4 linked regions of the Homo sapiens genome follow. The protein of the gene in region 1 interacts with the protein of each later gene in a pairwise test. Each region holds a gene or a part of one and is shown in the gene's direction. Other genes may lie near its edges.

Region 1 (9,102 bases):
ACTGCGCCCGACTCTATTAATTTTTTTTTTATTAATAACCGCCATTGCTATTTCGTTCACTGTGTCTGGCTTCTCTACCAAGGCGCCGTCGGCATCTGTAGACTAAAAATAAACAGCATAAACAGACACAAACCAAAATAAAATTTGCAATTGTTGATCCACCTATGGTTTTAATCCACTTTAAAGGATTAGTGTTAGAAAGGCCATCAGCGGCTCCAGTAAGAATATCAGCTCCAGGCAACAGGCTGAGATGAGCCTGAGATGCCTCAAAAAGCTGTCTTTTCGGTTTAGCAATATCTAATGTTAAATTATCTTCTTTTCCTTGTAGGTGACGTCTAATCATCTCCCAATCGTGTTCAGTGGCATTGTAAGAGCTAGGAGTAATACAAAACTCAGAAGTATTCCAATCACATTGCATTTGAATTCTATGCTCCAAGCTCATAATCCGATCTCCCATCCAAATTACTGTTTGACGGAGATCATTAATTTGATTTGCCAATTTTTGATCTATTTGGCTTTGGGAATTCCAAAGCTTAGAATAATTTTTCTGCCAACTACCCACAAAGTCCGCAGTTTGAATAGAAGAGTGCAAAGCAACACCAGCAAGGCCCAGGACCACAGCTATTAAAGTAAATAGGAATCTCTTTGATCTATTAAGTATTCCTTTTAGTACTTCAGTGATAATATGTATGGAGGGACAGGCCTCCCAAGGTCTATTGAGGAAAACAGGTATCCAAACTCCTTCTCGGGCCCTAACCAGTAAAATGCTATTATCTTTATTAAAGGCAGAAATAATGCAGGTAAAAAGACGACAGTTGAGGCATGATATGGTTTGAGAGTCAGGTAAGATATTAATTTTTCCCACTGCCAACATAAAAGGAGGTTTAACACAACTCTGCAATGGGACCATCTGATTAGAGGTCATGGCTACAACAAATCGAAGTTTTTTACTATGGGTCTCTGTTTTACATTCTGCTTTCCAAATCCGAATTGGGCTTTGAGCCATCATTAATTTCCACAATTCTGGATGTTCTGGGCTTATAATTGGATCAATAATTTTTGGGCTTGGAGGAGCCATACCGTTCTCCTCCCACTTAATAGGGTAATTTGTTTCAATTCTTCTATGTAATTTTGGTGCATTATCTGGGTAGTCGTTTGCAAAATAGTCTCTCTACAATCTTCACTCTGTCCAGTACAATTTACTGCAAATTGTCCCCTAGGGGCCCAATCAATGATGATTCCATAGGAATTATTTTGTAGTACAGCAGCACTGTTTGCAATATAATCTTCCCAGGTTAGCACCTCTAGCTTTTCTGACCGTTTAATAACAGGAGGTTCTTATTAGGTTTAAATTTATTAATCTGGCGATGTGTCACAACATAGCCATGCTCAAGGTATTTAATAGTGTCCAAAGATTGAAATGTTCTTCCACTGATTGCATGAATAAAGGCTTTTGATCCGTTATGTGCAGGAACATAAACCATCCAACTTTGTGTATCATAATTTAAAAATCCTGCTGCTGGCCCCAGGCAGATGGCAGGAAAGCGATAACCAATAGAAACATTCATTAACATTCCTCCTCCTCCTCCTTCCTCCTATTACAAAAATAGGTGTAATTTTGATCTGCCTCTGCTACAGGAAGACTCACCACCAAGGAGATTACCGCCATCATAGCTACCATTAGATTACTGGTGGTCAGCGGCTTGTTCTGAGACCTCAGGTTCTCTTCTGCAATGTGAGCCAGTCTCTTCATCTGCCCCCAGGTCGGTGGAGTTGCTTGGGGAGTTTTACTGGTTTCCATCTGCTCAACAGAGATGTTCATCTGAGCCGTCTGACGAACTGGGGGCGCAGAGACATTCTGAGGTCTTTTCCTCTTCTTGGACTCTGTCTCATGGCACAGCTTAAGATGTCTTGTGGGTACCCAGACAGGAAGCTGATTCTCTCCTGGTGAAATACAAGCAAATCCTCAACCTCAACAAGACCCACTGGGGCCTTTTGTTTGGGCCAGTTTTTTGGCCATTGGTAAAGAGCTATGATCGACACATCTGCTCCTATGTTGACCAGACCCTCAAATTGTTTTCCTTGAATGGTGACCATACAAATAGGTCTATTGTCAGAGACTTGATTTACCCAATAGGCAGCCTTGCCTGCTGAATTTGTGCTTCCAAATCCTCCTATTCTTTTTTCTGAGCTTTCTCCTAACTTAACATACGGCAAAAGCAACAGTTGAGCTATTCTGTCACGTGGATTAGCACTCCAGGGAACAGTGGAGGAGATAACAATTTGAATTTCTCCGTAGCAATCAGAGTCCACTACTCCTGTATGTACTTGAATTCCCTTTAAGTTGGACCTTCCCAGTATAAGTCCCACCGTGCCATTTGGCAGTGGGCCATAAACTCCTTTTGGGACCTTCCTGGACTGCGGCTGGCTTCCCAAAGTGGGGAAGAGGGCTGGTTGAAACCTGCCTCAATCCATTTGGGAACACTCCATTTGGAGTCAGGGATGTCCCGTCCTGAATTGGGAATGCCCCGTTTTGAATTGGGGCCCGGTCCTGAGTTTTGCCTTTTTTGCCTCTTTGTACACTCTCTTTTTGTATGTCCTATCTGTCCACAATTATAGCAAGACCTGGGGAACACTCATGTGTTTTTTGTTACCCTTAGTCCAGCCATTGCCTGAGCAAGGAAGCTGGCCTTATATAAGTGCTCCCCAATGCCATCACAGGCTTTAATGTATTCACTTAAAGCTTTTTCCTCATTTAGATCTGCCTTTCCTTTAATAGGTCTAATTGCTGCCTGACATTCTGTATTAGCATTTTCATCAGCAAGCAGCTGAACGATCACTTTCCTGGCATGAAAATCTGAAATAGCCTTTTGAGCCGCATCTTACAAACGGGCAATAAAATCTGGATAAGGCTCCCTTGGACCCTGTCGAACTGAGTTAAAACACGGATAAGTTGTACCAGGGTTGTGAATTTTTTCCCAGGCTCTTAGGCATATAGTTCTGACCTGATCAACAACCTCATCACCCATTACCATTCTGTTGATTTAGAGTACCCCATGTGATTCCAAGCAATTGATCAGATGTGATATTAACGGGACGTTGGACTTGAGCATTTCTGCATGCCCGATTTGTTGCTTCATCTGTCCACCAGGTTTTAAATTGGAGAAATTCAGAGGGGGACGGAGTGGATTGGGCTAGTGCCTCCCAATCCATAGGTATTAAACGCCTGTTATAAGCCACAGATTGTAACAAGGAATGAACATAAGGAGAATTTGGCCCATATTGTCCAATTGCTTGCTTTAAGTATTTTAATATTTTAAAAGGAAGTGGCTGCCAGCATGCTTGAGCATGTTCTCTGGGCTCCTCAACTGGCGAATTAATTACCAGAAACTGCAAAGCATCCAAATCCCCCATTTCTCATGCCTGGCGAATGGATGACGGGATTGTCCCCGTGCCATAATTTGTATTTGGACCGGCTCGCAGCATTCCTCTACCACAATTAACAGGTGGTAGAGGATCATTCCCTGATCGTAATTGGCTGTTAGGCGAGCCTGAAGCTTCCCTTCGCCATAGTTATTGGTGGGGCCTGCAACAATGGGAGCGGCAAGCCGCGTCTCAGGCTCCAGTTCCAAAAATTTGTAAGGCTGAGCCGGGGGTGGCCATTCCAGACCTTCCCCTAAAGGCGAAGTAGGTGGCACTGTTTCTTTTATAAGTTTTTGGAGATTAGCATATATACCTTCCCGTTTCTCGGCCTTTTTAAAACTAGACTGTGATGGTTGATTTTGCTGATCATTAGACTCCTGATTATTAAAGTTTTCTATGTCATCCTGAAGCTCCTCCTCAGTGTGGAAGGGCTCCAGTGCTGTTTTAATTGCAGGCCACGCAGACCAAGCAAGAAGGGAATATCGTGGCCCTCTTGTTGTGCTCGTTTTAAGTCTGATCCGACCTTGTCCCAGTCTTTTACATTCATGGTTCCATATTCCGGGAACCAAAGAGAATACTTTTTTACCAGATAGAACAAAGATGGGAGATTTTGGGTACTCACAATTACCCCTCCGCGGCGCAGTAACTGCCGGACAAGGCTTCAGTAATTAGCAAACTTACTCTCAGCCTGACCCATAGTTTCCGGAGGTTACCCTGGAATTTTCCGAGCGCCCTACTTACCTGTAGAGCTTGAAGTGAAAACGTACTCGGGCGTCCTTTGTCAGTCATCCTCCACTTTCCACTCTCTGGCATTCCTTCACTGGATTATTTGTAGAGATTACCGGGAGCCCGGCGTTGGGCACCAGAGACCAGCCTGGGCAACTGAGGGAGACCCCATTTCTACGAAAAAAAAAAAAAAAAAATTAGGCAGGCGTGGTGTCCAGTGCCTGTAATCCCAGCTACTCCATGAGAGATTGGACAAAACCTGGGACCAGAGACTGATTTTCTTCTAAAATGCTTTCTCCAAAATATTTTTAAAAGAAAAGGGGGAAATTGGAAAGGAAAATGTTTTGAGCCCCCCAGATCACTAAGCTAAAGGGGAAAGTCAATCTGGGAACTGCTTAGGGCAAACCTGCCTCCCATTCTATTCAGAGTCATCCCCTGCTCACTGAGATGAATGCATATCTTATTGCCTCCTTTGGAAAGGCTAATCAGAAACTCAAAAGAATGCAACCGTTTGTCTCTCACCTACCTGTGACCTGGAAGCCCCCTCCTGGCTTCGAGTTGACCCGCTTTTGCTTCAGGTTGTCCCGGATCAAACCAGTGTTCATCTTACATATGTTGATTGATGTCTCCTGTTTCCCTAAAATGTATAAAGCTGTCAGATACAGTCAGTTTCTCTTCCAAGGTTTGGCATGTTAACTTTCTTGTTTTTTTGTTTTCGAACTCAACTTTCTTGTTCTCCATGCCTCCTTGCCCTTAGTTACTGTAAACAACCTTCCGTCAGTTCTAATCAATAACTCACATCTGTTCCCTTGGTTACCTGCTCTGCACCCATTTCTCCCTTGGAAACCGCAAGTCCCACCATTGTAACTCACATCCCCCTTCCCCCTTCCTTATTTGGGAAAATATTCACAAATAGCCAACCGGGTCAGTTTAGATCGTGCGGTCTGACCCCAGCCCATGCCAGAGGTAGGGACTGCGTTAGGAATAAAAACCCCTGCTTTCCTCTGTTCAGTGTGCTCTTGCGATCGTGATTGATGCGAGCAGCACGCTTCTGCAGAAGTAAATTGCGTTGCTGAGAAAACTTTCGCTTGAGTGCTGGTTTCACTTTGCGGCACCGAGCATTTCTCTCCAACAAAACCAAGCTGTGCTCTGACCACCTTGGGCACATGTCATCAAGGACATCCTGAGGCTGTGTCATGCATATGCATCCCCAACCTTGGCAAAATAAACGTTCTAAATACTCTTACCCCAAATGCTCAGGGAGACTGATTTGAATAATCATAAAACTCCAAGCCTGCACTCCAGCCTGGGAGACAGAGCAAGATTCTGTTTCAAAAAAATAAAATAAAATAAAAAAACTCCGGTCTCCCGCACAGAGGACACTGCGTGAATTACTCTTTCTCTATTGCTATTCCCCTGTCTTGAGAAATCGGCTCTGTCTAGGTAGCGGGCAAGGTGAACTCCCTGGGCAGTTACAGAACTGTCATTATATTGCTTCCAATTTTATATATATATATATATATAAAAGGCACAAATAGCTATAACTTGTATACAGGTTAAATGTGAATGTCCTTCTTGCATGGTCGGATCCCAGCGCAGGAAGGACGCACCGCCTACAAACCGCTAGGCCAAAAGCGGTCATTCTGACCTCATCCAGCCTCACGTGAGATCGCAATCTCCTGTCACTCAGGGCCTGAGGGGCGGGGCCTGAAGCCCCATCCAATCAGGGGCGCTGGGGTGGGGACCGTTCAATCAGGCGCGCCGCCGGAAAGGAGAGGGCGGCTTCCGGGATCTGCCTGGCGGTTGCTTTGTCTCTCCTTCGCCGGAGCCGGCTCTTCCTGTTAGTCTCCGCTGCTAGTTCTTGGCTCTGGGAGGCCCAGGTGGCTCTGCAGCAGCCTCTGCCACCCTGTGACCTGCGAGTATTGGGACATCCCTAGCTGACGCCAGGACACCCGGGAAGCCGAGGAATGGTGAGTGGACTGCGCCTGGCTTCCCGAAGTGGAGAAGAGGGCTGGTTGAAACCTGCTGTGGCGCGACTCGGGCCTCCACGCCATCGGCTCCGGAACCTGCGGACCGAGTCGCCGTGGCGTAGCCGGGGCTCAGTCCTCTTCTGTTCAGGGCCGGGCCGGGCGGGGCGGGCAGCGGAACCCCTGCATCCTGTCTGTACCTGCGGGCGCCACTTCCGCCGGCCGGAGCCCTGTCGGGAACCCCTCGCCTCCCCTATCCAGGTAGTGTGGTGACCACGGGAGGGTGATGCGGGAGAGCCCCGACTCGGTGTCTCGGTGTGCGGGGTTCCAGCATGGGAGGAGCTGTGGTTCATGGGGCTTCCAGTCCCACCTTTCTTCCCCTAAAATTAAGCCGAGGCTTTGTTAAAACGTTAAACCGTGTGTTTGAGCAAACGGCGATTCATAAACCAGGTACCGCAGTCATGGTTTGTGGTTTGGGGTCCACAGAAGGGGCGTAAATGAGAGGCTTTGATAAGGTTAATGAGGAAGCAAACCATATTCTTTTTTTTTTTTTTTTTTTTTTTTTTTGGAGACGGAATCTCGCCCTGTCGCCAGGCTGGAGTGCAATGATGCAGTCTCACTCATTGCAACCTCTGACTCCCGGGTTCAAGCGATTCTCCTGCCTCAGCCTCCCGAGTAGTTGGGATTACAGGCGCCCGCCACCACGCCCAGCTAATTTTTGTATTTTTGGTAGAGACAGGGTTTCGCCATGTTGGCTAGGTTGGTCTCGAACTCCTGACCTTAAGTGATCCGCCCGTCTCGGCCTCCTAAAGCGCTGAGATTACAGGCGTGAGCCACCGCGCTCGGCCAAAATATTTTTCTGTTTACAAACATTTTACATGAGAGGAAAGCGGAGAATAAACCATCTGACACTCTACTGTAAAAAAATCTTTGTGCCTCTCTTCATCTTTCCTAAGTGTGCATATTACCAAAATGTCTTTAGGTTGATGTCCCCCTGTGAAAACTTTACAGGGTGTTGTGTCCTCAGCCCTTGGTCTGCTTGCTCATCTCTCTGCTAATACTGTGCTGTCCTGAATATTTTTGGTTGAAAATCTTAAAAGTATGTTAGGCAAGACATAACTCTTTTTTTAGATGACTGAAAATCATTAGACATTTGTCATTTTTACTAGGTATGAAAAACTAGTTTTTCTTGCCTAAAAAAGCCTGATTTGGGAATTTATGTGATTTCACAGGAATAGCATCTGGAAGTGGTGACATTAATGTCATTTTAAAAAACATGTGCCATATTTCCTCTTATTCCATTCTGCCTTGACATTGTGCAATAGAAATTTAAAAATTGTATTAGTAAATTGTTAAATATCAATTATTGGTTTTATTTACTACTCAATTAAATTTAATAAGCCTATTCTCTCTTGGTGTAATCACATGGAATGGGCTCAACTCCCCAATTAACAAGTGACAGCACATATAAAATATTGTCTACCAGGGAAACTCATTAAACACTTAGTGTTCAGACTGTGTTTTGGTGTCTGGTTCCCTAAGCACCACTGCAGTGACACAAAATAATAGACCTTTAGCAGAAAAAGTTTTGGCAACTATATTGCATAAACCATTTAGATGCAGTGAGTCATTCTTATTACTTAGGTTGGTGGAATCCCTTTCAAAATGTAAGTTACTAATACAAACAAAGATTGAACTTTGTGAGCAGGCATTTTTAAGAATAAGTAGTCTTAGGACTGATATTATTAACTCACTTATGCACATCAGGTAGGACTTTATTATGGCAGATACTAGAAATGTACGAAGTGAAATTAAGAGGTAACCTAGCAGCACATCTTACTCCCTGGATTCTCTAATGAGATGGGTATTTCCACTTTGCTGTTGCCTTTTTGAATAGTTCAATTCTAGCATTAGTACTGCTGTGTGGGAGGGAGTATGTGTGAACAGAGTAAGAGTTGTGACAATCAAGTCATAGAATAAATGCTTGGAAATTATCAAATCATGTAAACAGCTTATGAATTGAGTATAGATTCCCAGTGCTGTCAGTCTCACCCATCCTTCTATCCACATGTGTGGAATGTTCTAGGACTCGGTGGCTTTTGAGGATGTGGCTGTGAACTTTACCCAGGAGGAATGGGCTTTGCTAGATTCTTCTCAGAAGAATCTCTACAGAGAAGTGATGCAGGAAACCTGCAGGAACCTGGCTTCTGTAGGTAAGAATGACAACACATTTCAGTTAATTACAGAAGTCTTTCCCTATCATCAGTGCTATTTATGATTTGGAATGTGGCAAGGGAATGATTTGGTGAATAAATCAGGCATGGGCACTGTGTACAGTGAACATTAAATCTAGTAATGTGTCTACAGTTTGTAATAATTCATGATAATTTTATGGGTCTGCATTTTAGGAAGCCAATGGAAAGACCAGAATATTGAAGATCACTTCGAAAAACCTGGGAAAGATATAAGGTAATTTGCACTGAGCAGAGGAAATAAAGTCCTCTGAAGGAATCTTAGCATGTCATGAACTTAAAAACAAGCAATCAAAACAAATAAGAGTCACTTGAAATTTATTTATTTTTAGAAAAATTTCACCCAAAATGTAACGTACTTCAATGTAGCAGTCAGTGTTTGCAAAAGAGTTTACTTGAAAATAGTACTACAAAACTGTGTATATGAATATTACTATTTTGGTCATAGCCATGCAGGTGGTAGCTGTGTTTTCAGTAGTAACCCATTTACTTTGAAATAATTCAGTCATGGCAAAAAAAAAAATGCATTTTCCCTGATATTGGTAGCAGTGTAAGTCCAAGACCTATTAATAAGTAGAAAGTTATTAATAAACCAACCAATAATAATGTGCTTGTCATTTTTTTACAGAAATCATATCGTACAGAGACTGTGTGAAAGTAAAGAAGATGGTCAGTATGGAGAAGTTGTCAGCCAAATTCCAAATCTTGATCTGAACGAGAACATTTCTACTGGA
Region 2 (8,818 bases), on another chromosome or scaffold:
TCGAGCCCACCGGGGAATCTTTGCCATCAGCGCCGTGTTTTGATGCCCGCGGCAAGGAACACCACGAAATAGGTTTCCTGACACTCAGGTGAGGTGCCAGGTCCTGGGTTACCAAGGTCAGGTCAGGTGGTCTGTACTTGCCACCCCTGGGTCGGCTCTCTACCCTGCTTGACTACATCACAGGAAAAGGCTGGAAATGGATCCGGGGCTTGTTGACCTGTAGCTCATGGAGGCTGAAGAATTTCCTCCTTGAAGGCAGACCTGATTTTCCTCCTCACGGAAGAGTTTAGGCCAGTCATAGGGTGTTTTTCTTCTATTTATTTTATGTTATGTTATGTTATGTTATGTTATGTTATGTTATGTTATGTTATGTTATGTTATGCTATTTTATTTTATTTTAGAGACAGAGTCTCACTCTGTTGCCCAGGCTGGAGTGCAGTGGGGCCATCTCAGCTCACTGCAACCTCTGCCTCCCGGGTTCAAATGATTCTCCTGCCTCAGCCTCCTGAGTAGGTGGGATTACAGGCGTGCACCACCATGTCTGTCTAATTTTTGTATTTTTGGTAGAGATGGGGTTTCGCCGTGTTGGCAAGGCTGATCTAGAACTCCTGAGCTCAAGTGATCCGCCCGCCTCGGCCTCCCAAAGTGCTAGGATTACAGGCGTGACCCACTGTGCCTGGCTTCTTCTTTAGTAAATAAACTATTTTATCAAAGTATAATATATCTTCAGAATAGTGCACACATCTTAAGTGTACAGTTGGGTGAATTTTCACAAAGTGAACACACCTGTGTAACCAGCACCCAGCTCAGGAGATAGAATTCTCCTGAATGGGAGTTAGTGTTTAATGGTACAGAGTTTCAGTTTTACAAGATGAAAATAGCTACGGAGATGGATGGTGGTGATAGTTGTACGTTATAAATGTATTGAATACCACTAAACTGTACACTCAAAAATGGTAAATGGTAAATCTTATGTGTGTTTCACCACAATCGTAAAAAAAAAAAAAGAAAAAAGATCAGCTGGGTGTGGTGGCACAAGCCTGCAGTCCCAGCCATTTAGGAGGCTAAAGCAGGAGGATCACTTGAGCCCAGGACTTTGAGGTTACAGTGAACTATGATTATGACACTACACCCCAGCCTGGGATCCCATCTCAAAAATAAGTTTAAAAAATTTTAGAAAAAGATTCCCAGCCACTTAGAATTCTCCACATGCCTTCCCAAAGCCAAACACTATCTTGATTCATTTTGCCAGTTTTTAACTTTATTATTATTTATATTTTATAGAGACAGAGGGTGGCTGTGATGCCCAGGCTCGTCTCAAACTCATGGCCTCTAGTGATCCTCTTGCCTCACCCTTCCGAGTAGCTGGGATTCCAGACACATGAACTTTATTTTTATTTTTATTTTTTGAGACAGAGTCTCGCTCTGTCACCCAGACTGGAGTGCAGTGGCGCAATCTCGGCTCACTGCAAGCTCCACCTACCCAGTTCACGCCATTCGCCTGCCTCAGCCTCCTGAGTAGCTGGGACTACAGGTGCCTGCCACCACGCCCAGCTAATTTATTTTTTATTTTTTTAGTAGAGTCGGGGTTTCACCGTGTTAGCCAGAATGGTCTCGATCTCCTGACCTCGTGATCTGCCTGCCTCGGCCTCCCAAAGTGCTGGGATTACAGGCGTGAGCCACTGCACCTGGCCATGAACTTTATATAAAATGGAATCATGCAGTGCTGTGATAGAATCATAACCACTAAAGATATCCACATCCTAACCCCCAGAATCTCTGAATATGTTACCTTGCCCAACATAAGGGACTTTGCAGATGTGATTTAGTTAAAGACATTGAGACAGGGAGATTATGCTGTATTATTCAGTGTGCCCAGTTTAAGCAGAAGAGTCCTTTATAAGAGGGAGGTGGAAAAGGTAAGAGTGATGGGATGTGAAAAAGACTCCACCTTCTGTTGCTGACTTTGAAGATTGACAAAGAGGCCATGAGCCAAGGACTATGGGGTGGCCTCTAGAAGGTGCAAAAGACAAGGAAACAGATACTCCCCTGGAACCTCCAGAAGGAACACAGCTTCTACCAATGCTTTGACTTTAGCCAGTGATCCTTGTCAGACTTCTACAGAATTATAAAATAATAAATTTGTGTTGTTTCAAGCCCATTAAATTTGGGGTCATTTGTTACAGAAGCAATAAGAGACAAATACAGGTATTTACTCTTTGTGTCTGGCATCTTTCACTCAACTTTTTTTTTTTAGCCCAAGCCCATGACAGTAGATCATTGTATTTGTACTATATAACATTCCATTACATGAACATGCCACATATTCTTCGTCAACTGTTGATGGACATTTGTGTTGTTTCCAGTGTGGGCGCTTATGAATACTGTGGCTATGAACTTTCTTGTACATGTCTTTGGGATAAGGTATGTGCATATTTCTCTTGCACATATATAGGAATAGAATTTCTGGGTTATAGGGTATGCATGTATAGTGGCTGCTGTGATGTATCCCCAACTCTTTCAGAACGAAAGGACCTATTCCCTTAGCTGCTGGGAGGACCCCTGGCTGGCAGTCCCAGCTGCCAGGGCTCTGTGCAAACTAGTCTCAGCTGAAAAGAACTTATTTGGCCAAGGTCACACATGCCTCCTAGGAACGACCTGTGTCATTCAATGACTGGTTGATATGTAAGGGTGGGGGATATAAAGGCCCCCTCCCCCAATGATACCTGGAATAGCTTTGAAGGGTCACCCTGGATTCAAAGTTCTTCAGGGATCAGAGGAGGCTTTTGCAGAGGCTACATACCAACCCAGCTTCTCCCCCACCAACCCTGCTTCCCTCCCTTTCCTGCAGGTGTTGATCATGAGAGCACTCCCTAGTCAACTTTCTTTCTTTTTTCTCCCTCTAATCCAATATGATTGATATCCCTAATCAACTTCCTGCATGCTAATCTCCATCTCAGGATCAGCTGCCTGGGAACACAACCTACAACAGCTTACGTTATTCAGCTTTCATGGTTATCAAGCAGTCTTTTTTTTTTTTTTTTCCAAGACGCAGTCTTGCTCTATCGCCCAGGCTGGGTGCAGTGGCGCAATCTCAGCTCACTGCAACTTCCGCCTCCCAGGTTCAAGCAATTCTCCTGCCTCAGCCTCCCAAGTAGCTAGGACTACAGGCATGTGCCACCATGCCCAGCTAATTTTGTATTTTTAGTAGAGACAGGGTTTCACCATGTTTCCCAGGCTGGTCTTGAACTCCTGACCTCAAGCGATCCACCCTCCTTGGCCTTCCAAAGCGTTGGGAATTACAGGCATGAGCCACCACGCCCGGGCAGTTTTCTAAAGTGGTTGTCGTCCTATGTATTCCCTCCAGCAGGGTGAGAGAGTTCCAGTTGCTCAACATTCTTGCCAATACTAGGTATTTTTTGTCTTTTTTTTTTTTTTTTTTTTTTTTTTTTTGAGACAGGATCTTGCTCTGTCACCCAGGCTGGAGTGCAGTGGCATGACCACAGCTCCCTACAGCCTCAACCTCCTAGACTCAAGCAATTCTCCCACCTCAGCCTCCCAAAGTATCTGGGACTACAGCCGTGTGTCATTATGCCCACCTAATTTTTATTTTTAAATTTTTTTATAGAAATAGGATCTTGCTATGTTGCCCAGGCTGCTCTTGAACTCCAGGCTCAAGTGATCCTCCCAACCTCGGCCTCCCCAGAGTTCTGGGATTATAGGCATGAACCACCACGCCTGGCCTTTTTTTTTTTTTTTTTTTTCCCTAAAGCCACTCTGGTGATTGGGTAGTGATACCTCATTGTGGTTTTCATTTGCATTTTTCTGATGGCTAAAGAAGTTCAGTACCTTGTTGCATATTTATTCAGTTATTTGTGTATCCTTTTTTGTGAATTACCTGGTCAAATCTTTTACCCACTTTTCTACTGGGTTGCGTGCCTTTTTCTTATGACTATGCAGATGTTCTTTCTGTATTCTGGATACAAGTCATTCGTTGGGTATATCACAACATTATTCAGAGATTCTCAACGGCACCAGCACATTAGGGTCCCAATAAAAATGAGTTACGTGAATGCTTGAGTCCGAACACTCTTCTAAGGAAAGAATGCTTGGACAGATGCAAGTGTGTATAGTTTTAATGGGTATAATTGGATATAGGATATGGGTCCCAAGGAAAGGAAAACAGAACCTTGAATGCAGGTAACACACCCTCAAACTTTGCCACTTTCAGCCTGTGGTTTCTAGCCACAAGCACTTAAACACGCAGTTCCCAAAGGCAACTGTAAATTAGTATTCATTCATTCAAAGAATGTCGATGGAAGGTATCAATGACCAGCATGTTGTTTGTTTTTTGTTTGTTTGTTTTTTGAGGCAGAGTCTCCCTCTGTCGCCCAGGCTGGAGTGCAGTGGCGCTATCTTGGCTCACTGCAACCTCTGCCTCCAGGGTTCAAGCGATTCTCCTGCCTCAGCCTCCCGAGTAGGCATGCGCCACCATGCCCAGCTAATTTTTGTATTTTTAATGGAGACGGGGTTTCGCCATGTTGGCCAGGCTGGTCTCGAAACCCCTGACCTCAGGCGATCTGCCCGCCTTGGCCTCCCAAGGTGCTGGAATTACAGGAGTCAGGCATCGCGCCCGACTGGTGAGCAGCCTGTTCTAGGAAGTGAGTAGCCAGCTGTGAAAGAGAAACAATATTCTTGCTTCCAGGAGATCTAGGAGAGACGACAACTTCTAAAATAGCATAATTTTAGACATGAGACATAAACTGAATAGGTCGTAGGGGGAAGTAGGACGAAAGGGTTGATCAAGCAATTCCCAGACCAAGACACCAGGAGGGTCCCGCCCTCGGCCCCGCCTCCAGCTTTGCATACATCTCCTGATTGGTCGGCGGCGGCAGGCCCCACCCCGCGGAGCCGAGCTCCGCAAGCTGCAGGCGGGCTCCGCCAAGATGCAGCGGCGGCTCCGGTTGTCGCCGGGCGGGCCAGGAGCAGCGCGGACCCGAGCCGGGCAGGGGGCGCCCGCCACGGCACCCGCGCGCTCCTAGCGCCCCAGACCCGCCTGCGGGCCCGGATCCTCCTTGCCACTGTCCCACCCGCCGTCCCTGCCACTCCACCCTTTGTGTCGCCGCAGCCCGGTGCCCCCGGCTCTGCGGGACCCCGGCCGGGCCGGACCCTGGCAAAGCGCCAGGCCCCGCGTGGGCTCCCGGCGAGCGGTTGATGGCGAGGGGGCGCGGCGCGGGCTCTGTAGCCCGAGTTCCCGACGCTGGAGGCCCGGCCCGCCTCAGCCGCATTGTCCCGGGCCGCGCGCACCGGCCCTGAGCTGCGCCGCCGCAGCACCCGCCCGCCGCCCGCGGGGCCATGCGGAGAGCCGCCGGGATGGAGGACTTCTCCGCGGAGGAAGAGGAGTCCTGGTACGACCAGCAGGACCTGGAGCAGGGTGAGCGCGGGGGCGACCGGGACAGGAAGGCGGGGAGCGCCCGGTGACCCCTGTCCGCTTCTCCATTGTTGGGCGCTATCACCCCGGGAGGGGCTGGGCTGGACCGGGCGCGCCCGACTCGGAGGAGGGACGCGTCTGGAGAACCGGGACGTGGAGAGAGGGGGCGCTGCCGGAGAAGACGCGGACCGGACGGGCGGAGACCTGCAAAAGTGGGGGGCGGGGGGCGGTCTTCCTATTTTCCCAGACGACCGGGCATCCGTCATCCAGCTCGCCCACCCCGTCCTGGAGGCAGCAACTGCTCGGCCGCCCCTGGTATTGTTACGGGGCCTGAGCGCTAGCTAGGAGTCTTCTGAGGCCGGGAGGCGGCTCCTTCGTCATGTTTTGCTGGGAGGGTGGCTTGTGTGTAGAGGGAAGTTATCTCACGCCAAATCCAGCAGCACCCGTCCCTGACAGGAATTATGAGCTCTAAGACTCCTAGAAAGTTTCCCTAACTCGCTTCCTACTCAGGGAGAAGTGGTACCGCGTCTTTGCTGGTGAAGAAGCAGAAAGTCAAGTCTCCCATCTGCCTTCGAGAGTCAGGAGTCGCTTAGCCCTCCCCTGCCCGGTCCCCTTGCAAATGGCTCATGGTTTGGAGGGGGTCAGGTTCGGGAATCCCGGCCAGTGTGCCAGGCGAGAGACCGAATAAAGAGGGATACATCTCCGCTGCCCCCAGTTGCCATCTGAGGACAGAAAGGGCGACTGGAAGGGGGTTAGAAGCTGGTGATGAGGTGGCCGAAATGACATCACTGGGAGTGGGGGGTGGGGCTGTTGGGACAGAAAGGAAGAGGAGGCCTGCTGGAGTGGAGTCAGTTCTATCCTCTCCTCCCCTAAGATGCCTCCTTCTTGGATGGTGAGAGCTGGAAGGGGCGAGGAAACATGTCCAGGGAGAAGTGACCTTCCCATGGCCTCCAGCAAGCTGGGGGGTGTGGACATAAGTCTGCTGCAGTTTGTGCCATTGTGGCCTGCTGTGGTGTGCCCACACCCTGGTCTCCATCCACAAGGCTCCAGAGGGCTGGCTTTGCCCTGATGTGCAGCAGCTATCCGGATTCTGAAGCCCCTGACCTACTTCCCCACATGGCCAAGACTGGCTGGCAGATGAGGCTCTGTCCTTGTGCTGAGGACAAGGGTTAATCATAGCCTCAGGGGGACCAGGGTGGGACTGGGGATGCTGGACTAGGCCCTGCCATGGTCTGTGCCCTGGACTCTGGCCTCAGCCTCCTTGGCTGAAATGAGATACAGCTCCTCTCAAACACACACACACACACACACACACACACACACACACATCCACACATTGTGACAACCCCCTCTCCCATCCTGGGCAGTAAATTTTTCCATGAACACCTATTAGGCTCCCCTTAAGTACCAGACACCATCCTGGGAGCTAGGAATAGTCACAGCCCTGACCCTGAAGGTATACCCTGGCAGGTGAAGGAGGCAGGCTTGTAACTAAGTGTAGGTGGCACAGTATTTTTTTCTTTTTTCTTTTTATTTATTTATTTATTTATTTTCAGACAGAGTCTCCCTCTGTCACCCAGGTTGGAGTGTAATGGTGCGATCTCAGCTCACTGCAACCTCCATCTCCCGGGTTCAAGTGATTCTCCTGCCTCAGCCTCCTGAGTAGCTGGGACCACACCTGGCTAATTTTTGTATTTTTAGTAGAGACAGGGTTTCACCATGTTGGCCAGGCTGCTCTCAAACTCCTGACCTCAGATGATCCACCCGCCTTGGCCTCCCGAAGTGCTGGGATTACAGGCGTGAGCCACCACGCCCGGCTGGTGGCACAGTATTATGGGCAGTGGGGAGGGCTTCCTGGAAGAGCCAGGCTTAGAAAGAAAGATCAGAAACTGAGTTCTTGAGAAGATGGTTTTCAGGGAGGCCGATGCCAATATTGTTGCTGTCTCACTTAATTCCTGCACCCCTAATGAAGGCTTTGGCACTGTTCCTGGCCCAGAAATGGGAAAGGAGCCAGGGCATAGAGGTGGGAGATGCGCAGAGATGTGCAGCTTCTTGAGAGAGAGAAGGATCTGAGACTCCAGCTGCGCTGGGTGGCCGTGCTCTGGGCTGCCGGGAGGGATGGGCCCGGCAGGCCTCTGCTTCTCTGGCCCTGCTGGTCTGCAGCTGTTGGCCTGGCCTGGCAGCTCCAATGGTAGCCAAAGGCCAGGAACCAGGAGGGAAAGCAGAAATGAGACAGAATAAACTGGAGCTTCCTGCCAAAAGCTGGATGTCTGCTTACTGTGGGCCAGGTACTGTGCTGAGCCTGAGGACATAATCTCTGCCCTCAGAGGACTCCACGTTACATTAGAGAAGACAGAAATAGGACCAAACTCACAATGGCGTCAGAGTGAGGGGTTCTGCAGCTGTAGGCCCAGCAACGGGGACAGCAGAGACTTAGAAAGGTTTATGCCAAGGCCCTTTTGAGCTGGAGGCTCCCCAGGAGAGGGAGGGAAGAAGGCATTCCAGGGGGAAGCGATGCTTGTACCAAGTCATGGAGCGACATGAGAAGGCTGGAAAATAGGGAGGGAGGGGCTGAAGGAAGCATCAGACACGGGTTCTGTGGGGCATTCCCGTGGGCCCTGCCCGCCCTGTGCCCCAGGGGCCAGGCATGGAGAGCTGGATGGTGGGACGGAGCACGGGCCAAAGGCCAGCCATATTGGGTGTCAAAGGCCTGTTGCATCTCCCAACCCACAAATTCTCTTCCACCCAGCTGCTCCCTGGTTGCCTGTGAGTGGCCCAGAAATGGTTTTCTCAGCCAGCCACCTGGTCTTCCCTCCTGTCTGTTTCCTCCTGCCCAAAGGGCAGGCCCTGATTCCACTTTCCAGAAGCTTGACTGTAGAGATCCTGTTTGGCTTTGATGCTCTGTCCTGGTGGAAAGCAGCCGTGGGACAAGTGAGGTCCTAGATTCTCGCTGTGTTCCCTCTGCCCACTGCCACGAGCATTTATAAAAATAGAAAAAGCCAGCTGGGCACAGCAGCTCACACCTGTAATCCCAGCACTTTGGGAGGCCAAGGCGGGCGGATCACCTGAGGTCGGGAGTTCGAGACTAGCCTGACCAACATGGAGAAACCCCGTCTCTACTAAAAATACAAAATTAGCCAGGCGTGGTGGCACATGCCTGTAATCCCAGCTACTCAGGAGGCTGAGCCAGGAGAATCTCTTGAACCCAGGAGGCAGAGGTTGCAGTGAGCTGAGATAGCTAGCGCCATTGCACTCCAGCCTGGGCAACAAGAGCAAACTCTGTCTTTAAAAAAAAAAAAAAAAAAAGCCTAGAAAGAGCCGGGCACGGTGGCTCACGCCTGTAATCCCAGCACTTTGGGAGGCCGAGGCGGATGGATCACAACATCA
Region 3 (8,276 bases), on another chromosome or scaffold:
CTTCCATCTCCTGGGTTCAAGTGATTCTCCTGTCTCAGCCTCTCAAGTAGCTGGGATTACAGGCATGAGCCACCACACCCGGCTAATTTTTTATATTTTTAGTAAAGATGGGGTTTTGCCATGTTGGCCAGGCTAGTCTTGATCTCCTGACTTCGTGATCTGCCCGCCTTGGCCTCCCAAAGTGCTGGGATTAGAGGCATGAGCCATTGTGCCTGACCCTTGGGTTTATTTATTTATGTATTTATTATACTTTAAGTTCTAGAGTACATGACAGCGTGCAGGTTTGTTACATATGTATACATGTGCCATGTTGGTGTGCTGCACCCATTAACTCGTCGTTTACATTAGGTACTTCTCCTAATGCTATCCCTCCCCCATCCCCCCACCCCACGACAGGCCCTGGTGTGTGATGTTCCCCTTCCTGTGTCCAAGTGTTCTCATTGTTCAGTTCCCACCTATGAGTGAGAACATGCAGTGTTTGGTTTTCTATCCTTGCGATAGTTTGCTCAGAATGATGGTTTCCAGCTTTATCCATGTCCCTACAAAGGACATGAACTCATTCTTTTTAATGGCTGCATAGTATTCCATGGTGTATATGTGCCACATTTTCTTAATCCAGTCTATCATTGATGGACATTTGGGTTGGTTCCAAGATTCTGGTATGTTGTGTCTTTGTTCTCATTGGTTTCAAAGAACATCTTTATTTCTGCCTTCATTTTGTTATTTACACAGTAGTCATTCAGGAGCAGGTTGTTCAGTTTCCATGTAGTTGTGCGGTTTTGAGTGAGTTTCTTAATCCTGAGTTCTAATTTGACTGCACTGTGGTCTGAGAGACAGTTTGTTGTGATTTCTGTTGTTTTACATTTGCTGAGGAGTGCTTTACTTCCAACTAAGTGGTCAATTTTTGAATAAGTGTGATGTGGTGCTGAGAAGAATGTATATTCTATTGATTTGGGGTGGAGAGTTCTGTAGATGTCTATTAGGTCTGCTTGGTGCAGAGCTGAGTTCAAGTCCTGGATATCCTTGTTAACCTTCTGTCTTGTTGATCTGTCTCATATTGACAGTAGGGTGTTAAAGTCTCCTATTATTATTGTGTGGGAGTCTAAGTCTCTTTGTAGGTCTCTAAGGACTTGCTTTATGAATCTGGGTGCTCCTGTATTGGGTGCGTGTATATTTAGGATAGTTAGCTCTTCTTGTTGAATTGATCCCTTTACCATTATGTAATGGTCTTCTTTATCTCTTTTGATCTTTGCTGGTTTAAAGTCTGTTTTATCAGAGACTAGGATTGCAACCCCTGCTTTTTTTTGCTTTCCATTTGCTTGGTAGATCTTCCTCCATCCCTTTATTTTGAGCCTATGTGTGTCTCTGCACATGAGATGGGTCTCCTGAATACAGCACACTGATGGGTCTTGACTCTTTATCCGATTTGCCAGTCTGTGTCTTTTAATTGGGGCATTTAGCCCATTTACATTTAAGGTTAATATTGTTATGTGTGAATCTGATCCTGTCATTATGATGTTAGTTGGTTATTTTGCCCATTAGTTGATGCAATTTCTTCCTAGCATTGATGGTCTTTACAATTTGGCATGTTTTTGCAGTGGCTGGTACTGGTTGTTCCTTTCCATGTTTAGTGCTTCCTTCAGGAGCTCTTGTAAGGCAGGCCTGGTGGTGACACAATCTCTTTGCATTTGCTTGTCTGTAAAGGATTTTATTTCTCCTTCATTTATGAAGCTTAGTTTGGCTGGATATGAAATTCTGGACTGAAAATTCTTTTCTTTAAGAATGTTGAATATTGGCCCCCACTCTCTTCTGGCTTGTAGGGTTTCGGCCAAGAGATCTGCTGTTAGTCTGATGGGCTTCCCTTTGTGGGTAACCCGAGCTTTCTCTCTGGCTGCCCTTAACATTTTTTCCTTCATTTCAACCTTGGTGAATCTGACACTTATGTGTCCTAGGGTTGCTCTTCTCGAGGAGTATCTTTGTGGTGTTCTCTGTATTTCCTGAATTTGAATGTTGGCCTGTCTTGCTAGGTTGGGGAAGTTCTCCTGGATAATATCCTGAGGAGTGTTTTCCAGCTTGGTTCCATTCCCCCCATCACTTTTGGGTACACCAAACAGACATAGATTTGGTCTTTTCACATAGTCCCATATTTCTTGGAGGCTTTGTTCATTCCTTTTTACTTTTTTCTCTAAACTTCTCTTCTCGCTTCATTTCATTAATTTGATCTTCAATCACTGATACCCTTTCTGCCACTTGATCAAATCAGCTACTGAAGCTTGTGCATGTGTCACATAGTTCTCGTGCCATGGTTTTCAGCTCCATCCGGTCATTTAAGGTCTTCTTTACACTGTTTATTCTAGTAAGCTATTCATCTAATCTTTTTTCAAGGTTTTTAGCTTCCTTGTGATGGGTTTGAACATCCTCCTTTAGCTTGGAGAAGTTTGTTATTACCGACCTTCTGAAGCCTACTTCTGTCAACTCGTCAAAGTCATTCTCCATCCAGCTTTGTTCTGTTGCTAGTGAGGAGCTGCGATCCTTTGGAGGAGAAGAGGCGCTTTGATTTTTGGAATTTTCAGCTTTTCTGCTCTGGTTTCTCCCCATCTTTGTAGTTTTATCTTCCTTTGGTCTTTGATGATGGTGACCTACAGATAGGGTTTTGGTGTGGATGTCCTTTTTGTTAATGTTGATGCTTTTCCTTTCTGTTTGTTAGTTTTCCTTCTAACAGTTAGGTCCCTCAGCTGCAGGTCTGTGGGAGTTTGCTGGAGGTCCACTCCAGACCCTGTTTGCCTGGGTATCGCCAGCAGAGGCTGCAGAACAGCAAATATTGCTGCCTGATCTTTCCTCTGAAATCTTCATCTCAGAGGGGCACCTGGCTGTATGAGGTGTCAGTCGGGCCCTACTGGGAGGTGTCTCCCAGTTAGGCTACACGGAGGTCAGGGACCCACTTGAGTAGGCAGTCTGTCCGTTCTCAGAGCTCAAACACCATGCTGGGAGAACCACTGCTGTCTTCAGAGCTGTCAGACAGGGACATTTAAGTCTGCAGAAGTTTCTGCTGCCTTTTGTTCAGCTATGCCCTGCCCCCAGAGGTGGAGTCTACAGAGGCAGGCAGGCCTCTTTGAGCTGCGGTGGGCTCTACCCAGTTCAAGCTTTCCTGCCGCTTTGTTTACCTACTCAAGCCTCAGCAATGGCAGATGCCCCTCCCTCAGCCAGGCTGCCACCTTGCAGTTCAATCTTGGACTGCTGCGCTAGCAGTGAGCAAGGCTCCATGGGCATGGGACCCACTGAGCCAGGCATGGGATATAATCTCCTGGTGTGCCACTTGCTGAGACCATTGGAAAAGCGCAGTGTTTGGGTAGCAGTGTCTGGATTTTCCTGGTACAGTCTGTCACGGCTTCCTTTGGCTAGGAATGGGTAATCTCCCTACTCTTGCACTTCCTGGGTGAGGCAATGCCCCACCCTGCTTCGGCTCGCCCTTTGTGGGCTGCACCCACTGTCCAACCAGTCCCAACGAGATGAACCAGGTACCTCAGTTGGAAACGCAGAAATCACCTGTCTTCTGCATCAGTCACACTGGGAGCTGCAGACTGAAGCCTTTCATATTTGGCCATCTTGGATGCCCTTGGGTTTATTTTTAAAAATGCATCATTATAGTCTTGTTTTTCCCCTTTACTAGTTAGAAAATTATATACTTCTGTTCAGTTCTTCAGTGGATGTCCTAGAAATTCTCAAGCATCCTTAACTTATACAAAAGCCCAGTGTTAACAGATACCTTTACCAGTGTCCACCTCCATTGTAAACAAACTTAGAACACTGTTACTCCATTTACCCTACTCTCAGCTAATATATTTCTGTTACTGTGCATTTTAATTGTACATTTTATACTTCACAAGATCTCATTATGTAGTCTGTGTTTAAACTCGCCCATTTTTTTGCTCTATTTTTTTCTACATCTCTGCTTTTCCATCAGGGAGTCTTCTGCATGAAGCAGCTTCTTTAGAATTTTTTTACAGAGCAGATGCAATGAACACTCTCAGATTTATTTTGTGTCATGTGTTTGAAAATATATTACTTTTGCCTTTATTATTCGTTAATGAATGTTTTCACTGGCTTTGGAATTTTAGATAAGCAATTATTTTCTTTCAGCACATTGAAGATATTAGTGTCTAGGTATGACTGACTTTTTTTTTCTTTTTTCTTTTTTTTTTTTACTGTATCCCAGTTGCAATATGTTGGGTTTCTAGAATGTGTGGATTTATGTCTTTCATTGATTCTCAAATTTTTCTTAGCCATTAGCTCTTCAAATGCTCCTTCTACTCCATTCTTTCCTCTGTTCTTGGGTACCAGTTATGCATTCTGTGGTGGGGGGTTAGACAGGACAGAGTGTATGTGTGTGTGTGGTATATGTGTAAAATCCCAGAATGCTTTATTTCCAGAGGAGAACATTATAAGATAGGGTTTATTCAAATGAGTCTTACAATCAGCTATCTAAGAAGTCACAAAGTTTTGACGCAGGAATGACCTGAATTGCCCTGCAAGAGTAGTGGATTCTTTTAAATATACTTTTCTTTAACTCCTTTTGCACTTTTTGTCTTTTTTCATTTAGGCAACTCAAATTTTTTAATTGCCAATTTCTGTTTCTTTTGATTCTACAAAAGTAACTATGTTTCCGGTAGCCCCTAAACCCCAGGATTCCAGTCAACCATCAGACAGACTCATGACTGAAAAACAGGTAAACTTAAAATATTTTAAGACACTGCTTCTCAAAATATGTGCCAAAGAATGCTACATCTACAAACAGGAAAATTTGACTTTAAAAGGATTCTTTCTCAAATAATTTTAGGAAATGCTGGGTTAAAGACTATGAAATGGTTTAATTACTCTAAGACTTCACAATATTAGTCTCCAAAGGGAGGATTTAGTATACAGCATTTCATACATACTTAACACTAGTTTGATGAACATTTCATTAGACTAGTGTTCTGTAGCATGTACTTTGGAAAATGCCATTCCCAACTATTTTCAGAATTTACAATTACTTTATCTTAAAATGTAAGAGGTATCAGGAAACAATATGTATAAGTTAATCATTCAAAATATGTGACTTTATTATGTATAGAGCATTTTGTTTTTATGAGTTACAGTAGAAGTTCTGAGACACTAACTCAGAGCTTTTGGCTCCTAAAACAACATCAATGTTAATTTTAGTTGTGTCTACCACGTAGTTAAACTCTGTGATCAGAAAGACTAAAGCATAAATGAGAGAAAAGTTATGAGTGGGAGGAGATGTAAAAAAAAGGAGGAAGAAGTCAACAGTCAAAAAGAAAGACTTGTTTGACTTTGAGAGTGTCTTTCAGGGTGATTCTGTTAGAGTCAGTTATCCAGATGGACGGGCTCCTTTTTATAGTTAGACCTTGTCCATTTGACAAGGAGCTGTCTGAAATATTGGCTCCAACTAGTCAGGTATGTTTTGATTTTTTTGTGACCCTAGTCATTATGAAAGTGATACTTAGGGGCTGGGGCGGTGGCTCACGCCTGTAATCTCAGCACTTTGGGAGGCCAGGGCGGGTGGATCACCAGGTCAGGAGATCCAGACCAACCTGGCTAACACGGTGAAACCCCATCTCTACTAAAAATACAAAAAATTAGCCGGGCGTGGTGGCGGGCGCCTGTAGTCCCAGCTACTCGGGAGGCTGAGGCAGGAGAATGGTGTGAACCTGGGAGGCAGAGCTTGCAGTGAGCCGAGATCGTACCGCTGCACTCCAGCCTAGGTGACAGAGCAAGACTCTGTCTCAAAAAGAAAGAAAAAAGAAAGTGATACTTAGAAGTGACTCACCTTTTCTTTTCTTTACTATCCAGTTATTATAGCCTAGTTTACAGCTGTTTATTCTGAGCAGGGCTTGGTTTGGCTTAGTTAAATCTAAAACCTTAGATTTATTTGATTCACTGAAATTACAAGGTGTTTTTGTTGTTGTTGTTGGTTTTGTCCATTGAGGCCTACATATGAGTATTCTGTATAATGCAACAATTTGTGCTTATTTACATACTTCTAGTCTATTACTAATTTTGCTAGAAACAATAAATGTGTTTTTTGGATATTATATATGCATAAACATTTATACTTAAAACTTTTGAAGAAAAAGTTCTATTCTGAAAATGCAGGAAATTATATATGAGAGAATTTCTTCACTTTATATCTAAAGTTAACCCTTTCTTCTCTTTCTGTAATTGTAGCAGGAAGAAGCAGAATGGGAAAGCATAAATGTGCTATTGATGATGCATGGCTTAAAACCTTTGTCTCTAGTCAAAAGAACAGATCTCAAAGGTAATTAGATCCTATTCTTGATGCTTAAGGTAAAAAGTTTATTTTTCCTTAAAAAATTTTTTTTGCCTTTTATTTTTACTATCTGTATTATATACTTTTTAAATGTAGATCTCATCATTTTTGACAAACAGTCATCACAAAGGATGAGACAGAATTTGAAATTGTTGGTGGAAGAAACATCATGTCAACAGAACATGATACAGGAGCTTATAGAAACTAATCAACAGCTTAGGTGAGAAAATGGAAAAGATTTCTTTTGAATTGTTTGTATGCGTTCTAAAAATAACTGCCTTGAAAAAAATCTTGAAATTTAATTTCCCATTTTGATTAAATATTAAACTAAAAAATATTTTTGTAGGTAAAATTTTAATAGGTAAATCTTTTGGTAATAGCTTAGCATAGATGTTTAATGGTACCCTATATTTCTTCTATTAGTTTCTGTTGCAGGATGAGCATCTCAAATCTGAAAATCTGAAAGGCTCCAAAAATTGAAACTTTTTGAGCACCAACATGATGCTTAAAGGAAATGCTTATTGGAGCATTTTGGATTTTGGATTTTCAGATTTGAGATGCTTAACTAGTAAGTATGATGCAAATATTCCAAAATCTGAAAAAATCTGAAATATGAATCACTTCTGGTTCCAAGCATTTTGGATAAAGAGAATGCAAAGAAACTTTAGAAAGGCAATACATTCTTATATGGATATGCTTGGTAATTCGATTTATTTTTAATACTAAGGGAAGAAATTGTATGTCTATTAACTTAGAAATGAACTTCAGCTAGAGCAAAGCCGAGCAGCCAATCAAGAACAACGAGCTAATGACTTGGAACAAATTATGGAAAGTGTGAAATCCAAAATTGGTGAATTGGAGGATGAATCACTAAGTAGGGCTTGCCACCAACAGAATAAAATAAAAGATCTTCAAAAGGAGCAGAAAACTTTACAGGTACTGAGTTATGAATTCTTAGATGATGGTTAGTTAGTACTAAAACAGCTCATTATGGTCCCAGGTGACTTCCATGTTGTTTGATTCAGTGGTTTTTACCTTTTTTGGCTTATCACTGCTACCTTGAAATTCTCTTCACTTGGTTTCTAGAATGTCCTTTATTTCCCTCTGACCTCACTGATCATTCTCTAATTTCTTTTGCTGTTTTTTTTTCTCATCTCCCTAACCTCTTAGTGTTGGAATTCCCCAGTGCTCAGTCCTTAGATCTTTTCTCTTTCTTACATACTCTGATGCCCTTGGTGATGTCAATCTAACATAGGATCCAAAATTTATATCCGTAGCCCAGTCCTCTCCCCGAATTCCAGACTCATATCCAGCTGCCTACTTGATATCTCTACTGGATATCTAATAGGCATCTACAACTTTGTTTGTTTATTTGTTTACTTTTTTGAGACAGCGTCTGGCTCTGTCACCCAGGTTGGAGTGCAGTGGCGCAATCACAGCCCAGTGCAACCTCTGCCTCCTGCACTCAAGTGATCCTTCCACCTCAGCCTCTGGAGTAGCTGGGACTACAGGCGCATGCCACCACGCCTGGCTAATTTTTATATTTTTTATAGAGACAGGCTTTTGCCATGTTACCTAGGCTGGTCTCAAACTCCTGAGCTCAAGTGATCCGCCTGCCTCGGCCTCCCAAAGTGCTGGGATTACAGGTGTGGGGCACTGCACCTGGCTGGCATCTACAACTTTTTATGTCTAAAACTGAGTTCTTTTTATAGAAATGGCAATTTTATAACATTAAATAATTAACTCCCTAATTTTAAAAAACTATTAAAACTTGGGTGTTTATTGTGATTAAAAGAAATGAATCTTATGCTGGTAACTAATGTTTAGTTGTATGAGTTGTTTCTGATCTTTACTAACATTATGTCATTATAAACATTGAGTCCTTATTTTAGTGGTTTTGCTGACACAACACTATATATACGTTTGCATATGTGAGTTCAGGCTA
Region 4 (5,579 bases), on another chromosome or scaffold:
GGACTTACACCTTTCGTGGTTCAGAGTACCACATGTCATTTTTACCTTCAAATTATTATAAAAAACCAAACCTCACCCTTCCTTCCCATTTCCAAATGCCCTCCCGTAAGAGATACCACCCTGTTTGTTTCTGCTAGTTGGTTCTAGTGATTCTTAGACAGGACTGTATATCAAAAATACCTGTGGAGGTTTTAAAAATAATGTAGATGTCCAGGCCTCATCCCTGGAGATTCTATCTTTTAAGTCCGTGGTGGGTGCCAGGCACCTGTATTTAACCTATACACAAAATTCTCACGTATTTTCCAGTTGAGAGCCAGCATTGCTGACTGGGTAATAGTATCATCTTTACACATAGTTTTTTTCTTGGAAGGTTCATTGAAATGAGACACCATATAAAACAATAGCATGTGGTACTTGGCATTTAAAAAGCCCTTTTTAAATAGTAGTTACTATTATAGGAAAAAGACCGAAATTCCCCAGGTATTCTCTTCCTTTAATTTGGTTCTTGTTCTGGTATGAAATCCTAATTATTATACTTATTTATAAATTTAAAGTAGATAAGTCATCTCTGTGATATACATACAACATACATACTACACACACATAGACACACAATGTGTATGCATGTGTATATAATTCTTGCAATATTTATATATAAAATTCTCAGATTAAAAGAGCATCTCGAAGTATATAGCATTTTTGAGCCTTTCGTCGCCTTTTGCAGAATGTATAATAATAAATTTAATTATTTTATTTGCAGCATGGGAGCTTTGTGTGTTTTATAGCATTTGAACCCAAAAGACAGGCAGCTGTCTATAAGGCTATATTCCATTGCAAGCTTTTAGTGATTTGATAAAAGACAAAAGAAAATTCTAAGAACCAAATAACGGGATTTTAAAATTAATCTATTTCCCACAGGTGTTTCATGCAATCGGCTTGGTCAGCACTCATGTCTCCGTTGTAAGGTATACCAATGCGTTTTTTTCTTTTTAGATTTTGTTTTTAATCTCTATACCCCTCCACCAGTCCTTGGCTTATATGCAGCTATAATTAATTTATAAGGGACCTTAAAATTATGTAGTCTAATTCTTTTATTTTTGAGACTGTGGAATTGAAGTTGAGAAAGCTTACATGACTTTCCAATGGTCATCCAGTCACCTTTTAGTAGAGCTGTGGCTAGTGCACATTTCTCTGGAATCCTGGCTCTGTGTTTTTAGTGGAGAACATTCTGACCAAGATGATGAGAGTCTATTTTAATTAATGTCAAAATATACCTGCTTAGAAGAGTTTGGGTAAAGATTTCCAAATTTTTCTGTGTCCTTAGGCCTAGTCTCTAGCATTCGTTCGTCAAAGATTACTAAACAGATGCAGCCAATGCCCTTCCTCTCAGAAGCGTTTCTCTAGTTCTTATATTCCTAACCCTATGTCTTATTTATCTTCCAACTCTGTTCTAGTTTTACCAAATGGTGTTCAGGCATTATCTGTGTTTTCTTTGTCTGGAATACTTTTCCATCTTGGCTTACCCTATTGCCCTCCCATTCTTCATATGGCTATTAAGACTTCGTGTCTCTAAGATGCCTTTCCCAAATCCCATGTCTGCTTTAGTGCCCTTCCCTCTGCACTTCCCGTTCAGTGCTTAGTGTCTTGTAATTGCCTTTTCACTGTCTCCATCCCTAGTTAGACCATACACTGTGTGAGAGTAAATAGGCTGTTCACCATTATTTCATTTCATCAGGGACCTTATGAGTACTGAAATATTTGTGAACAGCTAAATGTACTTACATGTCATACTCAATATAGTCTGCCTTTTGTTAGATCATTGTTCAGAAGGGTCCTGACAAAAACCATTTCTGTTAAGAAAATGAAATGAGAAGTGTGACTGCTCCCAACAAAATTGTTAATCTCACTGCCTTAATAAAGCTATATCTTTAAAACACTGAATACTGTCTTTTTGTATATTTTTACATTTTTATTTATTTACTTTATTTTGCTTCTCCTATACAGGCTTGTTTCTGTGATGATCATACAAGGAGCAAAGTGTTTAAGCAAGAAAAAGGAAAACAGCCTCCTTGTCCTAAATGTGGGCATGAAACTCAGGAGACTAAGGACCTTAGCATGTCAAGTAAGGCCCTTAAGATACTAAGGAAGTGATTTTTGCTTTCATACTTAGACAAAGTTTATCTTTTTTTTTTTTGGTCTATTTTTCTTATTGCCTCTTCTTATTTGAAAAGATGAATGTGTTCTTTTAAGCAAGTGGAATTTTACAGCTTAGGAAAATATGTGGGTAAAGTTTTTCAGTTTTACTTAAATAGACCAATATTCATTTTGATATTTGGTATTTGCCTTAGTTAATGACAGCAAATACTGAAATTTAAGATAAAGAGTGATTTTTTTTTATTTTTGTTGAGTCTTCCTTGTTAAATAGTTGAGTAGCTATAATTCCTTAATATTAAAGTGGTGGTAATTTTAAGTACCTAGAAGTCAAATTCACTCTGAAGCTATCTTAGGTGTGTGATATTTGAGCACCTATGTTTATTTATGTAATATAGCACTACTATAGGAAATTATTTTATGGTTTTTATGTAACTTTTTTTGTGAAGGAATAAGCATGCTTATAGTAATGCAGCTCGCAATTTTGTTAAAGAGAAGTTTGACTCTTAACCAAACATATCAGAATGGAACCATAATTCTAAGTGACTGACTGCTTTGTTTAATCACAGATGTAGTTGCATGGTGAGGTGAGACTGATGATTTTGCTGATCTTCTGCACTGAACTTTGTGTCACTATTAAGGCAGAAGAAATGACAGGCTTTGTTTTTAAGGGCATCTGCATTGTAAAATAGCTGTCTTAAGAAAAATGTACTGATACGAAATCAGCTGTATTCTGTGATTTATGTGATTTGAAAATAAACTGTCAGTGGCCAAACGGAAGGTATTTTTGTTTTAAACATGCCTTAATACCTTTGGAGTGGTCTGTTGGTCTAATTTGTTTTCTAGATTTAATGAAATTACACTGTAATTTTTATTTTTTATGGTGTTGTATATAGACTCAGGTGAAAAAATTAGGAAAATGTGACCTATTTTTTCATTTGGGATTGAAGCAGCCAATGAAATCCATGAAATTTTATAGAGGAAGATGAGAATGTAGAGAACTGGAACTAACAAAATGCCTTGTACTTGTCTGTCTTCTATAGCACGCTCCCTGAAATTTGGCAGGCAGACTGGAGGTGAAGAGGGAGATGGAGCTTCTGGGTATGATGCTTATTGGAAGAACCTTTCATCTGATAAGTATGGTGATACCAGCTACCACGATGAGGAGGAGGATGAGTATGAAGCAGAGGATGATGAAGAGGAAGAAGATGAAGGCAGAAAGGATTCAGATACTGAGTCATCAGATTTGTTTACTAATTTGAATTTAGGAAGGACCTATGCTAGTGGCTATGCTCACTATGAGGAACAAGAGAACTAGGGGAGCTGCTCTGGTGGCCGTGTGTGAGAGGAGCAGGAGTGAGTGTGTGTGCTTGATGAATTGTGTGTGGTTGTTCAAAAGTACCTTAGCCACTTAGCCTTGTGCAGAAGACTAGTTACACTTAATGGGCCAAGCAATAGGGTGTAGCGTTTTTATAGAACTGATAATCAGGCTTATGGCATAAGAAAAATGAGTTTCAAATTTAAGATGTTTATTGATCGAAGCAATTGAAGTATCATGGATTGGATTGTTACTGATTTCAGTAAAGTATGTTTTGCCAATTAGATACATATATACAAGATAAAGGAATAGGATGGTAATATATTTGTTTGAAATTAAATTACTGTTTTTATTAAAAAATACTGCTTCATTGGGCTGATTTTGTAAAATGTAATGAGTAAAATGAATTACTGTATTTTTCCTTTTATGTCCACAGAATGAGAGTCATATGTTGTTATATTCTAAATTTTCATTAAATATTCATGTCACCTTGAGTTGTCATGATAAGTATGTTTTAGTATTTGACTTATTCTTCTCTTTCTTCACAATGTATGTCCTCAGTGGTACCTATTATTGATGCCTTAAATGTATTGATAAGGTGACTAGTTAGCCATTTTTCAGAGATACAGTATCAGAAATAGTATTATTACAGAAGCTTTACCCAGGACATTTTATTTCTCTTTGAATAAATCTATTATTTCACTTAAATACTTTTGACATTATATTTAATTTTTTGTTCTGTATTTTCAGTTTGTTTTGGAAAGCATTCTAATTTTTTTACAAACTGCTTCAGTTTTCACACATATGGAAATAGGTAATAGAGACTGTGTGGTATACACTTAAAGATAAGCAGCCCAGACCCCATCATTGATAGGTGGAGGACAGTCCTGTCACAAGTCCCAGTTGTTACAACTTAACACTGGCATTTAATAGGGATTGGGTAGTTGTACAAGGAGAGACAATATCTGATTGCCTCACATTTTAGATGTATGGAGAAAATTGTAGCTATGAGGATAACAGGGTTGAATGGCCATTGTTAAGCCATTTTTGTTCTATAGAAGCATACTTAACAGCCAAGGACAATAACAGGCAATGGAAAGCCAGGTGTCAAAGTTAGAGGGCCTCTGGTGGCATGTGAAAAAGCTTTTCACCTTTTGCAGTAGGACGGCTTGAAAAAACTGAGGAGCAAGCCCGAGACTTAATAGTTTCAAAGGATAAAATTTAAAGACAGTTGCCAGCCAAGGCAAGTCTATTATGCCAGCATCGGCAAACTGCTTGGGAAAACCTGTGACCCTGACAAATTAGATGGAGACATCTGAATCGATGGTGCTGGAGATTTTTACTCCCCAGACTCCTGCATTTCTGAGTTTGCAGTCATAGCCCACCCCTCCATGTTAAGGGCAAGCACTCCCCACTTCATTCTCAGGCTGGATGACAATGCAGAGGCTTCTTTCCTCGGGAAACATGCTCTCTTCAAGACTTGCCCTATCTCTAGGCCATTATAGTTAGTATCTCCAGGCCTAAAATTAGGGTTAAGTGACGATAAAGTTAAGCAAAACTCAGTTGAGGTGCTGGAACTGAAGTGGGAGGAAACAAGACTATGCCCCAAAAGAACTGCAAGAATTACGAAGAGTTGGAGGAATATGCTTGAGATTGGAATCAGTGCTTAAGAGGGTCAAAACATAAAATTAGGGAGGAGTTTGATGGCAGCCCTGACACTGGATCTTTGGATTGCTAAGAGTTAAATTAGAGGGTTTTAATAACCTGGCTAGGATCCTGTGAGATGGTGCGAACTCATTACCAGGATGGCTTCTTGAAATATGGAAAAAGTAATGGTCCTTTCTGAGCAAAGTCGAAACACTGGGATTACTGTGACATGGTGGAAGAATGGATTTAAATGGTTAAGGGAATTGGGTATGCTGGAATGGATTGGAAGATGAGATGATTATGTTCCATGGGAAGGCTCAGTGGACACACCATTTAACAGTGCCATAGAAATGTGCACTGATGATGGGGTATAAGCATCTCTAAAAACGTGTGGTAGCTCATGGTAGGCCATACAGACAGTAGGAAAAGAAAACAGAGTTCAGCTTGCTGATGGCAATGTATG

What was found.
Region 2: the proteins of ZNF669 (region 1) and CDR2L interact in binary tests that used the Homo sapiens proteins (3 or more experiments, as listed by UniProt).
Region 3: the proteins of ZNF669 (region 1) and CEP70 interact in binary tests that used the Homo sapiens proteins (3 or more experiments, as listed by UniProt).
Region 4: the proteins of ZNF669 (region 1) and ZNF330 interact in binary tests that used the Homo sapiens proteins (3 or more experiments, as listed by UniProt).

What each region holds. Positions count from the first base shown.
Region 1 is NC_000001.11:247,101,214-247,110,315, reverse strand, and holds the start of ZNF669 (zinc finger protein 669), read left to right. Parts: upstream 1-5,959; 5' UTR 5,960-6,116; coding exon 6,117-6,119; coding exon of another isoform or gene 6,120-6,377; intron 6,378-8,202; coding exon 8,203-8,329; intron 8,330-8,524; coding exon 8,525-8,585; intron 8,586-8,996; coding exon 8,997-9,102. UniProt on the Homo sapiens protein: May be involved in transcriptional regulation.
Region 2 is NC_000017.11:74,982,689-74,991,506, forward strand, and holds the start of CDR2L (cerebellar degeneration-related protein 2-like), read left to right. Parts: upstream 1-4,943; 5' UTR 4,944-5,355; coding exon 5,356-5,434; intron 5,435-8,818.
Region 3 is NC_000003.12:138,569,309-138,577,584, reverse strand, and holds part of CEP70 (centrosomal protein of 70 kDa), read left to right. Parts: intron 1-4,600; exon of another isoform or gene 4,601-4,652; 5' UTR 4,653-4,657; coding exon 4,658-4,726; intron 4,727-6,228; coding exon 6,229-6,319; intron 6,320-6,427; coding exon 6,428-6,551; intron 6,552-7,058; exon of another isoform or gene 7,059-7,086; coding exon 7,087-7,267; intron 7,268-8,276.
Region 4 is NC_000004.12:141,230,521-141,236,099, forward strand, and holds the end of ZNF330 (zinc finger protein 330), read left to right. Parts: intron 1-918; coding exon 919-965; intron 966-2,004; coding exon 2,005-2,122; intron 2,123-3,194; coding exon 3,195-3,469; 3' UTR 3,470-4,177; downstream 4,178-5,579.